Regions from separate parts of the Homo sapiens genome. Here region 2 is linked to region 1. Evidence: fine-mapped expression QTL. A gene starts in region 1. The other region holds a variant in brackets. All regions are shown on one strand. Distances are from middle to middle.

Region 1 (8,121 bases):
TAGGTAATGGAAAAACCTCATATCCACCTCATTTTCTCCAAACTATTATACACGTTTCATTCAATCAACAAACCTTTCTTGGATACCTACTCTTTGCCAGGGTCTGTACAAAGACAGAATATTTACATTCATGGATTCTGCATTCAGCTGCCACTACTGTTTCCTTACTGTTTCCTGCCACTACTGTGTCCCCCTTGCAGAGATAATAAAATTCATAGTCCTCATCCCTCTGCAAATGGTGCCAGCCTGCTGCTCCACTGCCACCACATCAAATTATTTTGTCCTCAGACCCAATCTCCATTCTCCTTTCTTTATATATCCTTATGTTGTCTCTTCTATCTGCAATGCTTCTGCCCTGCCCCACCTCCAACGTTCAAGGACCTGCACTGAAATCTCCTTCCCTGGCAAGGCCCTCCAAGACTCCTCCGGTTGAAATTAACCAACACCTCCTCGTAATCCCACAGCACTGACTGCAGACTGCAGTTTCTGTCTGCCCACCGTCTCCCTCAAAACTCACTAGACTGTGAATCCCTGGAGGAGGGATCCTGGCTTATCCCTCTTGTCCCCCAGCAGTGTCTGGCACAGGGCCCAGTACTTAGAAAGCCCCCAGTAAACACTTGTCGATGCAACTAGTAGCAGAACCAGAATTAGAAGTCAGATCTCCCGAATCCTAGTCTCCAGGGCCTTACTTGCTTCTTTTGACACCACAAAGGCAGGGAAAATGTCCCACCAAAGGTGGGGATCAGGTTGTCCAGAGAAGACCTTGGAATGGACCAGGGGTTGGCAGGATTGCTACATGTGGAGCTGCAGAGGGCGATGAGTGAAGAGTGTCCTGGCTCTTGGCTAGGGGTTTCAGGCGGGTTCCTTCCATCCTTTCTTCCTTCTTTCTTTCCTTCCTACTTCCCTTCTTTCTATCAATAAGCCCTGATCATCCACTTCTGGAGGGGAAACATGCTGTTTCTTTGATTCTTTTCTTCTCCAACTCCAGTTCACATCTGAAAAAAATCTCTATTCTGGGGACCCAGTTGCACAGAAAAACAAAAAAAACCCACCGTGTTCAAGCATCAAGGGACCTGCTCACTCTGTTCTTCCTTCCCCAGGGTTTCCCAGGAACCATTGCTCTGTAACCTGTCTCTCCTGTGCCCAGCCGACTGGAACTGCTTCCCAATCCCCTGTGGGTAACCCCAGGCTCTCCTGGGCCTGACTTTGGTGGTGTCTTGCCTGGCCCGCTCCTTGGGGGACCTCTGGCAGAGTGGGCTTCCATTTCTCTTTCTCCTTCCAGGATGTCCTGGCTCCATGCCTTCGGACTGAGCAGGAGCAGAGAGCAGGGTGGGTAGGATGCTTTCTGCAGACTTTTCTCCCTAAATTGTTTCTTTTTGGGAGCTGGGAGGAGCCTGGATATCTCACTGTAGCCTCTCTGTTCCCTCAGTCACAGGCAGGGTGCGGGAGAGCTCTTCCCAGGAATGGTCTCTGAAATGGCTCTTGGAGCTGAGATGGGGGTGGGGCAGATTCTAGAGGCTTAACAGCCCAGCTCTTGGTATTAGGGTTGGGCACTTTTCTCTTTGTCCCAGATCTGGGGGTAGCAGAGGTGGGAAGTTGAAGGCAGTGGGGGCTTCTCCATCAGCTCATCTGAGGCCCAGAAATGTTGCTTTGGGGAGAGCTTGCCCCCTCTCACCGTTTCTCTTCCTCAGCTCAATTCTTGAGTGTGGGGGCGGCTAAGTGGGTCTGCCTTCAGGCTCTACCCTGAGCCTCCAAGGAAGTCAGAAATCTACATTCAGCTTTGACTTCTGAGTATGTGGAGTGGGCTGGGGGGAGAGAGGGAGAGATCTGTCTCTCCTCAGCTTGAGGGAACAGCTCTCTTCTTGCCTCTGTGCACAGAAGGAGGGCTACCCCGTGCCTGGGCTCCTCTCTGTTTGGGAGGATGAAGGGCTCCTCTGACTCCTGTCTTCCCTTTGGGATAAGAGCAGAGGCCTGTCCCAGCAACACGGGTACAGGAGTGGAGGACAGCTGGCCAGCTCAGATGAGTGGCTCCTTCCCTTCAGGGCCTGGCTCTCCCTCTCCCTTGGTCTGGAGAGAGGGGGAGGCTACAGATGTCCCTTTCCCTTCTTGCCCTCCCATGCCCATTCTCAGCTGCTGGCCTTTGCTCACTTTCTCTCCATCCCCTGGCCTGGACAGGAGGACACTTCACTCACACATGAATCATCCTGGATTCATGGTAGGCAACCCAGCAGCCAGGGGTGGCCTTGGGGCGTGGCGGGGGCTGGGCCAGTCGTGGACTAGGTTCTACCCGGAACCCAGATGTGTTGATGCACCTGATGCCAAATGCTACACCAAGGAGGAGCTTGTGCTGTGGAAGGCCCTGGGCCCCCGGGGGGGTGAGTGAGGAAACTGCTGGCAGTGGAGAGGGCCTGAGGAATAACTGCACAGGCAAGAGCCTCTGGACTTTTTTAGCATCAGCTGTGGAGCCACCTCCTTCTCTCCCACTGGCTGCCTCCCTGAGTCACTGCCCACCCACCAGCAAATAAAAAAGAGTGTCATCTGCTGGCCAGTGGCCCCATTTGGCCCCAGTGTTTGCATCTTTGTGCTCCTGGGTGGAAGGTGAGAGTCCGGGTAGGGTGGTCTCACGACGACAGTTTTCTGCGCCTTCCTCCTTCGGGACTCCGATTCCTTCCCTGCCCTTTGTTCTTCCCCTCCCCCCATGATGGTTCTCGCTGGTGACAAGACCCAGCCCCTGCTCCAAGGACAGAGGCAGCTGCAAGCCCTCAGGAGCCCCCACATGGCCCCATCCATCTAGACAGGTCTCTGATCCGGCTGCAGGGAGGGGACCCTCGGCTGTTCAGCTGCGACTCCTCCCTCCCCGCCCGCCCACTCAGCTGTCAACACTCGCCTCCCCGCCCTGGCCTTCCCGGGGCCCTGCCTGACTGCTAAGTCCGAGGACACCGCGCCCGGAGACCCTCACTCAGACGCAAGCAGGCGATGAGCAGGCGGCGGGGCAGACACCCCGCCTGCCCTTGAGCATCCCTAGGCCTCCTTGCCTAAATAAGGGAGCCGCAGCTGGAGCGAGCCAGCTGGCCGGGGGGAGGGGCCTGCGGCTAGGCCAGGGCTTTCCGAGGGGCTGGGCCGTGGCCGCCGCCGCAGGGCCCCGAGCCCGCCGATTGGGCGTGCAAGGCTGGCCCCGGGCTGCCGGGGGAGGGCGGGCCGCTCGCACCCGGGGATCCCCTGGTTGGAACCTCGCGCTCAGGGACCTCTCTTTGATCCTGCAGCTAGGAGGCCGCAACTGCTGTCAGAATGTCCCTCTCTGTGCAGCTCCTATGCAGAGCCCCACAGAGGGCTCTCTCTCTCTCCGTGTGTGTGTGTGTATGTGTGTGTGTGTGTGTGTGTGTGTGTGTGTGTGTATGTGTGTGTGTGTGTGTGTGTGTGTGTGTGTGTGTGTGTTGGGGCAGGGGGCGTGCCCCTTCTAAGTTTAACCCTCCCTTATTTCAGAGCTCTGCTGCTCTGGGGCCTTCAGATTGTCTTGCTTTTCCTATTTCCAGGGTCTCCCTTGACTCCGGGCTCGTCTTCGAGGGTCCAGGCGTTGCCCCGGTCACCCACAGTAGGCACTGAGCGCGTGCTGTGTATACCAAGCCAGTGCTCGGCGTGGTGGGGAACCAGGGCATAAGGACCCGCCGTTTCCCTTCAAATCAGGTTTCTTAGTCGCTAATCTGGGGTGGGGGTGGAATCCCTTCCCCCATCCCGGCCGCCTACAAGCCGGCCATGGCACCTGTCCTCACGGTTTCCCCTGCCTAAGGGTCCCTTCCCCCTCTTCTGGGCGCGCGAGTCCCAGGGGCTCCTTGGCAGAGCGAGGGGCTGGCGTTGGGGGAGCACTCGGCGCGGCTCAGCCAATGGGAAGGTCGGGCGCGCGCGGTGGGGCGGGATGGGGGGGGGAGAGGGCGGTGCTGCGGGCGCGCGGCAGGCGGGAGGGGGCCGGGAGGCGGGGGCCGGAGCCGGAGGGGCGCGCGCCGCATTAACCCTTCCGCGGCCGGGCCGAGCCGCAGGCGCTGCCCGAGCCGCGGGCGCTGGAGCGGCTGTCGGCGCGGTGGCAGGCGGGAGCCAGGAGTCCGGGGCTCGGGCGGGCGGAGCGCAGCGCGGGGACGCGGCGGAGCGGGCCCCGCGGCTCGGCGGGGGCCGGCAGACAGGTGTGCCGGCGGCGGGCGGCTCGCGCTCAGGCGGCTCCAGGCCGGGCCCGGGGTCCGGAGCGGGGAGCCGGGAGCCGAGCGAGGACCCGGCGCCCGCAGTCCAGTCTTGGCCGCGCCCGTGCTCGGCTTGGCCGCGGGGTGCGGGGACCACGGCCCGGCCGGGCCACCCGAAGCCTAGTGCTGGGCCGGGCCGGGCCGGGGTGGGTGGGGGCCCGCCCGGCCCGCCCATGGGCTCAGGATGCCGGTGCGGAGGGGCCACGTCGCGCCGCAGAACACCTTCCTGGACACCATCATCCGCAAGTTTGAGGGCCAGAGTGAGTGGGGGAGGGGGCTGAGCGGGGAGGGGGCTCTGGGGGCGGGCCGAGCTCTTCCGAGTGTGGATGGGGGGGCGTGCCCGGGCCGTGTGCGTCGGCAAGTGCGAGTCAATGGGGCCTGGTGGGCCCCAGGCTTTGGCGAGGGGACGGCGGGGGCAAGGCTTGGTGCACCGGGGCCGTGGGCACCGGGCCAAAGGGTTTGGGGTTGGGGCTTGGGGCGGGAAACTCAGCTCAGGCTTTTGGGATCGGAGTGTGTGTGACACGCTGAGTGTGCAGGGAAGGGATGTGGGATGGAGTGTGCAGGTGTCCCCAACTCTGGGTGCGTGGACGTGGATGGGGCTGTGTGCAAGGGCATAAGAGTGTGTACGACCCAAACCCTGGGATCCCGAGAGTCCAGCGCGCACACTGGTCTTGCCAGATCTTGACTGTGTTGTGCCGGAGGGACTGAAAAGCCGTGGATGCAGGGTCAGCTCATAATCTCTTCTTGTGTGTGCCGTGTGTATATAACCCTGAGCCCATGTGTCACCCGTGAGTTAGACCCTGTATGGGCGGTGGGGAGGTGTCTTTGACAAGGCTGCGAGCTTGTGGGCTCTGTGGAGACAGGGTGTCCTGGGGCTAGAGCTGGGCTTTGAGGGTAAGCAGCTCCCTGTGGTACCCCCAAGTTGTGGGTTTTCTTGCCCTGGAGACTGTCACCTAATTCCCTTATGGGGACCGGGAGTACAGCACCCCTAATGCCTGCCTGGTAGGGAGGCTTCTAGAAGGGTCCCAGATTAGGCAAATGTCCTGGGGGTGGGCAGCATTCATGTGCCTGTCCCTAAGGCTGCATGAGCCACAGTGGGTGTGACTGCCAAGGGCCCTGGGAGTTGGGAGAGGATGACATTCCTTGTCCATGACCCTGTGAGCACAGGACAACGCGTGCTTGTAACGGTGGTTGGGGGAAGGAGGGGTCAGTCCGATGGTCAGTATTGTGTGAAGCGGAGGAACAAGATGATCCTGAGGGGGTGGAGACAATGACACTGGTTGAGGGCCTCCCTGAGAGGTGGGGGTGGGCCCAGGGGGAGGCTGTGGGCGGGCCTACGAGGAGGCTGGGATGGATGTGGGGGGGGGTGCTGGATTCTAGCCCTACCTTTGCCACTGACTGCCATGTGACCTTGAGTGACTCTTCCCTCTTTGGGTCTCAGGTTCCAGGTCTGTGGAGGAGGGGCAGGCTTTCTGTCCCATCCCTGTATTCCAGGATCTCAGTGAAGGGTGTGTGGTGGGGTGGGGCATGCCTTCGAAGAAACTTGCTCTTCTTTCCCCAGCCTGGGAGAGAGGACAAGGGGTGGTTTTTCTTCTATGAAGCTGGGGTGTGTGGCTGGGCCTCTGGACTGCCTTGGACTGTGGCAGAGCTGGAGGCCGAGTTAGGGGGTCTTTTCAGGTGACAGGAAACCCTGACTCCTGGAATTGATGGCTGCCTGGGAGGTCTGGGGGGCCTTGGGAACTGGCCAAAAGATGAACCAGTTCCAAAAGGCAACTTTCTGGGGGCCAGGGGAAGGGAGAATCGAGAAAGGTGGGAGGAGGCCAAGTCCTGATGGCCTGGGCCTATCTCAGGGTGCCCTGCTGCAGCCCAGCTTTGCACGTAGGATTGCCTAGGGCTGCAACCTGAGGGCTATGCTTGCTGGGGAGGGGAGGGGAAGGGAGGGGGAGAATTCCAACTGCTACTGAAAGCCCCAGCATTACAGGCCAAAGTGGCCGGAAACTTCTGTTTATAAAAAGCTCTTATCCCAGGAGCATCTTGCCTGGCACAAGTGAGGCTGCTGCCTGCCTGCTGCTCACTCGCCAGCCTGGCTCTCCGGGCAGGCCTGGAGTCAGGGAGCCAAGTCTGGCAGAAATGGAACCATGGGGGTGCTCATCCAGGATGAGGCCAAACTGAGGAAGGCCTCACATCCCTGGGCAGGTCCCCTTTCTTGGGTCTGTTTTCCTACAAGTGGGGCCAAAGTCTCAGGCCCCGCCCAGGCTCCAGGTGTGTCCAGGGTTTGGAGCTGCAGGTCCCTCTCTTTGCTTCCTATGACCTTGGGCTTCTGCCTGTGACCCTCAGCTTATTCTTCTGCCTCTGCCAGACCAAGGTTCAAAAGCTGGCTCTATCATTTACAAGCTGCAAGACTTGGGCATGGTGCCGAACTTCTCTGGAGCCTTGGTTTCTTCATCTATAAAAGGAGGATAATAACACCTACCTTATGGGGTTGTCAGAGGACCTAATGAGATGCAGCGTCCTTAGGTGTTCAACGTGTAACTTCCCTCATCCTCTCTGGCACACCCACCCCTCAGCTCCTGACTGCCCTTGGGGCGGGGGTGGTGTGCAGAAGTTCTAGGGGGTACTGACCTGGTAGGATCCTCAGATAATCGGGGAGTGATTTCCTAGGGAGCCTCAGGATAAGGAGTGGCTCAGGGAGCGCCCCCCAGTCTGGAGAGCAGGGAAATTAAAAGCAGAATCCAGAGAGCCGATGCAAAGGGAATCCTGGCCGCCATCTCTGGCCTTTCCCAGGCTCCCTTTCTAGGCCCAGTGTTTATCCCTCCGCCGCGGCTGCTGACACGCGTTGCTGACACCCGCCAGGCTGGCCTCAGCCTCGGGCATGGAGGAGGCGGCGGGCTGCTGGCGGCCTGCCCGGGGGAAGCCACGCAGCCCGCCCGCGGGCCAGGCGGAGGAGGGGGCGCGCCGCGCGGCCCGGCCGGCCAGGCACCTGTATCGGGGCACACGCACAGCTGCGTTCGCCCCCTGCTGGGACCCCAGTCCCAGCCATGCTTCCTGTGGCGGGGAGTCCCCGGGCGGCTGTGTGAGTGGAGAATGTGGGGAAGGGCTGGGAGTCCCGGAGGCTGGGGTCCCCGCTCACGCGCACTCTCCTCCCCGCCCCCCTAGGCCGTAAGTTCATCATCGCCAACGCTCGGGTGGAGAACTGCGCCGTCATCTACTGCAACGACGGCTTCTGCGAGCTGTGCGGCTACTCGCGGGCCGAGGTGATGCAGCGACCCTGCACCTGCGACTTCCTGCACGGGCCGCGCACGCAGCGCCGCGCTGCCGCGCAGATCGCGCAGGCACTGCTGGGCGCCGAGGAGCGCAAAGTGGAAATCGCCTTCTACCGGAAAGATGGTAGGAGCGGGCCGGGGCGGGGCCACGACCAGGGGCGGGGTCAAGAGGGGCGGGACCACGGCGAGGGGCAGGGTGCGTGGGGGTGTGGGGGTGTGGGGGCGGCTGGAGAACGCCCCGAGCCCGGGCAGGGTTCTGTGGGGGTGTGACGCGGGCGGGGGCCCTGCGGTGTGCCTGTGGGAGGCGCGGTTCCGGGGCCTGCGCCTCACTCTGCTGAGATGGTTTTCAGGAGGGCAAAGGAGTTGCTAGGCTGTGGGTCTGGCTCCTCTGGTCCTTTTTTTCCCTGGGCAGGTGTGGGCACGTAGAGCAAGTTGGACTAGAGTTAGACCGAGCTGGGATGGCAGGTACGTGCGTGGATGGAGGTTAAAGGTCAGATTGGCAGTTGTGCGCTGACATCCGGGCACAGGCCCCTATCTACCTTAGGGCAGTTGCTGCCAGGTGACAGGTCTGGGAGATGTCATGGAGGGACAGGAGGGCTGCAGGACTCTGGCTGTCTCTGCTGCCCCCC
Region 2 (8,121 bases), 41 kb after region 1:
CTGTCTTCCCAGCCCTAGCATGGACGTCGCCGCTCCTGAGGCCTTCTGCAGGTTTCTCAGCCGGTTGTGGCACTCGCTGGCACCTGTGTTAGGGGCTCCCCACACCCTGCCTGCTTGCTCGTCTGTCCTCCGTAAAGGGGAAGGGCTGAATGCTGGTCATCTTTTCGCCTATTCCCACCCAGCATCTAGCACAGTGCCCAGGACCTGATGTGGCCACTAGGCAGCCCACAAGACCCCATGTTTGAGGATTTTGCACAGAAAAGGGAGATGTCTTCCTGACAGAGTTGGCTGGGCTAAAATTTGCGTCTGTCCCTGGAGGTCACTTTCTTCCCAAAGGCTTGGCCTCTGGATTATGGCTGCCTCCCCGCCTGCCTCCCCGCCTGCCTCCCCAGGGAGCACAAGCCCCACTCCTTCACTGGCAATGTGGCTACACATGCTTATCTTTTTTTTTCTTTTTACTTTAGCACAACCAAGGTAAATATTAAATATTTGAAAGAGAATAACGGGAGCAGTGGGGAGGATAAACCAGAGACTTGGACCGAGAGCCTCAAGTCCATTCATTTTGTAGATTGAATGTTGGGGCCTGTCCATGGCTGCCCCAGTCTGCGGGCTTGTGGGCCCCACCCTGTTCCCATGCTCTGGAATGCCTCTGAGGTGGAACTGGGGATACTTTTTTGCAGGGGGGTTTGCTCCCAGTTTCCAGTTTCCAGGTGGCCTCTGAGTGGAGGGCTCCAGCTCACCGTCCTCTGGGTGGTTGTTCATTTGTCCTTCGATGGTCAAGGCTGAGGGAGGTTACACCGGGGGCTTTGCAGTTCCAGATTCGGGTCTGTGGGATCTACCTTTTCCCCTGGTGGTGGACAGTCTTCCGGAAACTGAAACCTGATTGAACTTGCTTTTCAGTGAGAGCTTACACTGCTGTAGGAAGAGGTATTTCTTTGTAGGAGTCCTGGCAGCTTGACAACACAAGGACCATAAGAGGACACATGTGGTGTGTTAGTGTCTCTCAAGTGCTCAACGATGTTGAAATAAACGGAAAACGCAGGGCCTTCCAAAGTGACTGTTTTGAGGCATTTTTAGATAATTGTATATCATTAAAGAGTGGTTAGTGTGAAAATTGATTTAGTAAAAGATTAAATAGTAACTATTTTCTTAAAGCTGCATATATGCCTGGTATTAAGCGATAAAAACTCAATTTAAGGCTGGATGCGGTGGCTCACGCCTCTAATCCCAGCACTTTTGGGGGCCCGAGGCAGGTGGATTGCTTGAGATTAGGAGTTGGAGACCAACCTGGGCAATATGGCAAAACCCTGTCTCTACAAAAAAATACAAAAATTAGCCAGCATGATAGCACGCACCTGTAGTCCCAGCTACTTGGGAGGCTAAAGTGGGAGGACAGCTTGAGCCTGGGAGGCGGAGGTTTCAGTGAGCTGAGATCGCACCACTGCACTCTAGACTGGGCAACAGAGCCAGACCCTGTCTCAAAAAAACCCAACCCTCCCACCCCCAAAACTCAATTTATCTTGATCTTTTTATTACAGTAGCATTTTAAAGAGGGTGCTTCTTAATCATTTTGAATTACTAAACATCCAAGTACAATTCTAGGTTTTTTGTTGTTGTTGTTGTTAACTTTTGTCTTCCAAAAAAAGAAAAAGAGAATGCATTCTGAGGCACTTGTTTAAATAATCAGCTTCATTATTTTATATTAATAATCACACCTTATAAGTGAGTTGGAAGTCTGCAAGAGACATTGCTAAGAAACCAGAGCAGAAGAATTTAGCATGATCCTCTTACCATTATTTTAAAATTAGCAATAGCATAAGGTCTGGCTGCAAAAGACTTAGATGCTAACTGGCAAGAAAATCAGTCATTAGGGAAACAGTCTGGAGAGGGCTCTCATAGCAACACAACCATATGTGACAGCTCTGCTTCCCCTTTCTGCTCTACCAGGTGATGGCAGCCAGATAATCAGATGGAACTTGCTGATGAGGGACACTAGGAAGGTCAAATCAGGGTGGTCTCCTGGACTTAAGCAGCCCAGGTGGAATGGAAGTCTTAGCAGAGAGGCTGTATTTAATGTCAAGTTACCCTGGGTGCCCTGGGATGATGACTCTTCCGCTGAGAAGTTTGGCTTTCTGTGGGGCTCTAAGTGACCTTAGGGAAGTGTTATTCTCAGGCTGGAGAAAGGAGCATGGAGGAATGAGGATTAGGCGACATGGGAATGAGTGAAGGGACTCAGCTGTCCTCCATCCTCTGGCCCTGGGGGAGCTTTTTCTTTCAGATACTGAGAAATGGGTTGAGCCCATGTGCCTAGTGCCACCCCATGTCTCTGGGGATGCCTGAGGGGCAGGGGCGAGGCTTATGTTCTGAGTCAAGGCACCTGAGACATTGGAGTCAGCAGGCACTGGCTCCTAAGCATGCAGCTGGTTCCTGTGCCTGGGAGGATTGCTTTAGCTCAGGGGTTCAAGACTAGCCTGGGCAACAGGCTCTTAAAAAAATAATTAAAAAAATCAGCTGGGCATTGTGGCATGTGCCTGTAGTCCCAGCTACTTGGGAGACTGAGGCAGGAGGATTCCTTGAGCCCAGGAAGTTGAGGCTGCAGTGAGTCATGATCGCCCCACTGCACTCCAGCCTGGGCAACAGAGCAAAATACCCTGTCTCCAAAAAGAAAAAAATGTGAGGGGCCTTTGTGAGCACTGGGGAAGTTACCTCATGATACAGGCCAGAAAACAACTTAAAAGATGATCCCAGACCTTCAAGCCCTAAGTTCTTGGCCACCCTGTCAGTGCCACCTCACTGGTGACCTTTTTCCTTGTCCTCCCACAGCCACTGGGATGCTATCCAGATGCATCTGATGAACCCCAGGGAGGAATTAAAACATGGCCCTGGAAGGGAGGAGAGGCTGCAGTATGGCTTCTGTCTTGGTCAGCAAGCAGTTTTCCCATAATAATAATTAGCCATCATAATGAGGCAGCACGTTGCAGAGATGCGGAGCTGGCGAGGATGAGGAAGCTGCAAAGGAACTGTGCTGAATGGGAGGCACAGGATCTCCTGGGAGAGCAGAGCCTGGTGCAGGTCTGAGGGTTGGGCTGGGCTTGGCTCAGTGGCTCCTGTCATGCCTTAAAGGCAGTCCTGAGGCGCACAGGAAGTGGTGCGTGATCGTAGGCTGAGCTGTTCAGCTCACGGCTTGCAAAGCCCAGGTCTTAGGAATATCCCTTCCTGAGCCAATTAGCTTCCTACTTGCCGAGGCAGCTGCTGCAGCTTTAGCCCAGCCTATCCTCTTGCAACCTCAGGCATCAGGTGAAGGATCAGTGTTTGGAGGGGACGGCAAGTGCCATTGCTTATTAGAGACTCAAGTCACACCAGACATGACTGAGGAGGTGTTGGGGCACAGCGTTGCTTGCTGAGGACAAACTCCTCGAAGTTTCCTGCTAACTTTTCACCAACTGGTAAACGTTGAATGTTCTGGGTAACTGCCAAATTTGTGGTTCAGAAATGGAAAAAGTGCAGAAAAGCTGAAAGTGACTTTAGCAAAGAGGCAGCTCCTTTGGCTGAAGTGCTTGGCAGGGTGGACGTAACTGACGCAGCAGGACAGACACGCCTCTCTCCTCAGCATCCCCTGTGGGTGGCGTCTCCTTGGTCCTGGGTCTTGGGTTAGCCCCGCAGCTGGATCCGGTGCTGGTGAGGCTCCTGTCCAGGTGGCCTCACTCTAGCAGAGCAGACTGGGCCTTGTGGGTGCTTACCATGCCCGGGATCCCCCGTGGAGACTTTATACCCCAACCCAGGGCAGGAGAGCTTTCACTTAAAATGTTTTCCTTGAGCCCCACCTAGAATCACAGAAAGTCGCCAAAAGTCATGAGAGAGCACAGTCTACCCCGTCGTTTTTCAGTGGAGGGGAATGAGGCTTAAAGTTGCTCAAGG[C/A]AGGAGTTTCCAGAGCAGCACGGCCCCTCACTTCCCGTCCTGCTGCAGGCTGGATGGGATGCAACCGCACCCTTCAGTAGCTCATAATTTAGCTGGGACCATATAAGAGAAATAAAAGAAAATGACCATGGCCCCACTTTTATGAAGTGCCTAACAGAGCTTCTTTTATTCCTATTCAAGTCCTCCTCATTCTCCAGGACCTGGCTCCTGGCAGCCCTCTCCATAAAGCCTCTCCATGAACCCTTGTCAGTCTACAGCTATCCTCTGTGGCATTGCATGACACACAAAGCCACACCGTCCTGTAACTTTTTTTTTTTTTTGAGATGGAGTTGAGTTTTGCTTTTTTCGCCCAGGCTGGAGTGCAATGGCACGATCTCACTGCAACCTCTGCCTCCCGGGTTCAAGCGATTCTCCTGCCTCAGCTTCCTGAGTAGCTGGGATTACAGGCATGCGGTACTATGCCCAGATAATTTTGTATTTTTATAGAGAGGTGGGGTTTCACCATATTGGCCAGGCTAGTCACGAATTCCTGACCTTGGGTGATCCACCCGCGTTGGCCTCCCAAAGTGCTGGGACTACAGGCGTGAGCCACTGTGCCTGGTCCTGTAACAGTTTTTTTTAATTAATTATTATTTTTTTAAGAGACAAGGTCTCCCTCTGTTACCCAGGCTGGAGTGCAGTGGTGCAACTATGGCTCACTGCAGTCTCAACCTCCTGAGCTCAAGTGATCCTCCCGCCCCAGCTTCCCGAGCAGCTGAGACCACAGGCGTGTGCCACCACACCTGGATAATGTTTTCTCACTGAAAGTGGAAACAGCCATTTCTGTCTTCTATATTAGCAGAAAAAATATTTTTAAAAACCCGAAGGACTGAACTTTCAGTTCTTACTGCAAAGCCCGCAGGGGCAGGGTTATCTGGACTGGAGGGATGTCCACTCTTTGCTCACAGCCTGACTTTGATACTGTGTTCTCTGTGGTCTAAGGAACTTACCAATGGGGCTTCAGTAGTCTCATATCCTAAACACGTTATCGAGTTGTTTTCATTTTCAGAAATCATTAAGGGACACATTTGACCCACATAGAGACTGGCAGGGTCCCAGTTGCCTGCTAAGTTCTCAGACAGGGCCAGGCTGATGAAAATTCAACTTAAGTCATTAATTGCTGCATAATAGCAATGGTGCCGTTGTGAATGGAGGTGGGGTCCTTAGAAACTGGCTCTGGAGGATGGGGCAGGGACTTGGCTCTTGGAGATGCGGCCATGAGAGCTCCTGGGAATGACATGGAGGGAATAACAGGTGTCTTGACACTAGCACCTGGAGGTGTGTGAGGGGCCAGGATGGACTGCGGATAGACCAGTCAGCGTACCCAGCACAGTCAGCACAACCAGATGGCCATGTGCTCCGGGGCCAGAGGGAGACGGAGGGACACTGTGGCCCAGATGTAAATGATGGATTTGCTCTTTTTGTATTTTATTTTATTTTTTGAGATGGAGTCTCACACTGTTGCCCAGGCTGGAGTGCAGTGGGGCGATGTCAGCTGAAGCGATTCTCTGCCTCAGCCCTCCCGAGTAGCTGGGATTACAGGCGTGAACCACCATGCCTGGCTAATTTTTGTATTTTTAGTAGAAATGGCATTTCATCATGTTGGCCAGGCTGCTCTTGAACTCCTGACCTCAAGCAATCCTCCTGGCTCTGACTCCCAAAGTGCTGGGATTACAGGTGTGGGCCACCATGCCCGGCCACATCTTTTTGTATTTTAAAGTGAAATTTAAAAACACAGGTTAAGGGTTAAAATTATGAAACAGACCTGATATAAAACATGTTATTTTGGGGATAAATTTTCCTGGTTGCTGTTGTGGAGAAGGTGGAATATTTCACCTTTGGTGAAATAAACTAGAAATGTGGTGTTAGTCTTGTCTACCTAACACGACTATAAATTCTTTGCAGCCAGGGCTGAGATTGCGGTGGAGATGAAGTGAGGGTCTGTTTGAGGAAGTCTCTCTCCAGAGGTGTGCACGAAGGACCAGCAGCAGAGTGGCACTGCCTGAAGGTGTCTTTGTGAACATCCCCGCCCCTGAGGATTGGAAATAGAAACCTGGGGTTTTAATTCTGTCCATTTTTGTCATTGTCACAGAGCTCAGTGAAAGCTGACTGGCTACTTGAAAATATCAGGGTTGGAAAGTGGGCTTTTGAGAAAACTTATCAAGCGATAGATCACTGGAGGCTGGGAGGGGCACAGGATCAGGTGCTGGGGAGCTGAGACCGGCAGACTGGAAGGCTCTTGAGAGTGCAGGGCTCCATCTATTTACCATGCCGAGCAGGAGATGGAGTCCCGGAGGCAGGAGGTGGCTTGCCAAGGCCATAGAAATAGAGTCAGGGCCAGGTTTAGGACACAGCTCTGGCCCCTCAATTCCACAAATGCAGAACTGTGATGCTCCCAACCCTTGGAACATAGCTTTGTAAAACCCAGATTTTTCTTTTTTTTTTCTTTTTTTTTGAGATAGGGTCTCCCTCTGACAGCCAGGCTGGAGTGCAGTGACATGATCACAGCTCATTGCAGCCTCAACCTCCCTTGGCTCAAGCGATCCTCCCAACTCAGCCTCCTGAGTTGCTGGGACTACAGGTGAGCACCACCATATCTGGCTATTTTTTTTTTTTTTTTTTGGTATTTTGTAGGGTTTCACCATGTTGCCCAGGCTGGTCTTGAACTCCTGGGCTCAAGAAATCCACCTGTCTCAGCCTCCCAAAGTGCTGGGATTACAGGTGTGAGCCACCATGCCTGGCCTGGCCTGTTCTTGGGTGTGAAGGTATCTGATGTGCTGGGCGGCCTGTGCGTGGGGTTCTTTCTCCAGGGTTGGAGAGGGATGGTGCGGAGCCCTTTAGCTGCTCCCATTCATTTCCGCAGAAGGTGTTATGTCTTTGAGAAGAGGGAAACAGTGGAATCTGTTTCAATCAATATTTATTTGGATAATCACCATCTGGCTGGAGCTCCCAGGCCCTCACCCTACCCATCTCTCCACTTCTCTGGCTGCCTGCCAGTGGATCCCAGTTACAGGCCTGGACCTCAAGGGAGGGTGAGGACAGTCTCAGGTCAGAAGGAACAAAACCAGGCTGTCTTGTCCTGCTCTTATGTCCAGGCAGGCATGTCTTTCCTCCAGTCCACGGTTTTCAACCAGAGGTGATATTGCCCCCCAGGCATGTGTGGCAATGTCTGTGCACTTTCGGTTGTCCCACTTCAGGGTGGTGGTAGATGGGTTGTTACTGGCATCTAGTGGGTAGAGGCCAGTAACATCCTGCAGGCACAGGACAGCCCCCACAACAGAGAATCAGCCAGCCCCAGATGGCCATAGTGCTGAGGCTCAGAAACCCCGCTCCAGGCCTGTTCTTTATGATTTTTTGGGAAGAGGGGTTTCCCAGCTGCCTTCTTCCCCTACACAACGTGACAGCAAGCCACTGCGGGGCCTGGTTTCACCTCCTACCTCAATGTTTTCTCACTGAAAGTGGAAACAGCCATTTCTGTCTTCTATATTAACAGTAAAAATATTTTTAAAAGCTGACTGTAGTTTAAACTGAATGTCCTGGGAGAAAGGCAGGTTATTCCTGTGAGGAAGAGATGGCTCCTTTTGTTCAGAAGTACCCTGTAGTCTGTTTGGTTATTAACGATGAGGTCCTTAGAGAGGGGCCTGGGTAAGTGAGAGCTGGTCAGAGATGGTACACCAGGAATCGTTTCTGAGTCTTTTTTTTTTTTTTGAGACAGAGTCTCACTCTGTTGCCCAGGCTGGAGTGCAGTGGCATGATCTTGGCTCACTGCAACCTCTGCCTCTTGGGTTCAAGTGATTCTTGTGCCTCAGCCTCCCCAGTAGCTGGGATTACAGGTGTGCAGCACCACGCCCAGTTAATTTTTGTATTTTTAGTAGAGACGGAGTTTCACCATGTTGGCCAGTCTGGTCTTGAACTCTTGGCCTTAAGTGATCCGCCTGCCTTGGCCTCCCAAAGTGCTGGGGTTACAGGCATGAGCCACCCCACCTGGCACACTTTTGAGTCTTTAAGGGCATCCTGGGAGAGATGAGGCCCAGCGGTGAGAGGGAGAAGAGACTTCCATGGCCTATGAAGACGTGCGGAATTATTTTTTGGTGGGAAATGGCCAATGAATATTTAGGAAAATTGATGTTCGACATTTAGTGTTAGGTTACTTCGCCCCAGTGG

What was found.
Region 2: its variant is fine-mapped to the expression of KCNH2 in whole blood (INTERVAL, PIP above 0.99).

The regions. Positions count from the first base shown.
Region 1 is chr7:150,974,206-150,982,326 of GRCh38, reverse strand. KCNH2 (potassium voltage-gated channel subfamily H member 2) reads left to right here and starts at 4,006. Exons shown (of 15, transcript NM_000238.4): 1 at 4,006-4,489; 2 at 7,386-7,616. The coding sequence starts at 4,414. LOC124901776 (a long non-coding RNA gene) reads right to left here and starts at 7,009. Exons shown (of 3, transcript XR_007060592.1): 1 at 6,852-7,009; 2 at 5,616-5,791; 3 at 4,972-5,482. RefSeq lists silencers at 2,989-3,338, 7,112-7,261, 7,652-7,701, 7,802-7,871 and an enhancer at 5,708-6,634.
Region 2 is chr7:150,933,454-150,941,574 of GRCh38, reverse strand. No RefSeq gene overlaps it. Among named protein-coding and RNA genes, the nearest start is that of KCNH2, 41 kb to the left of the region's middle. The variant C/A (reference allele first, on the strand shown) is at 3,919.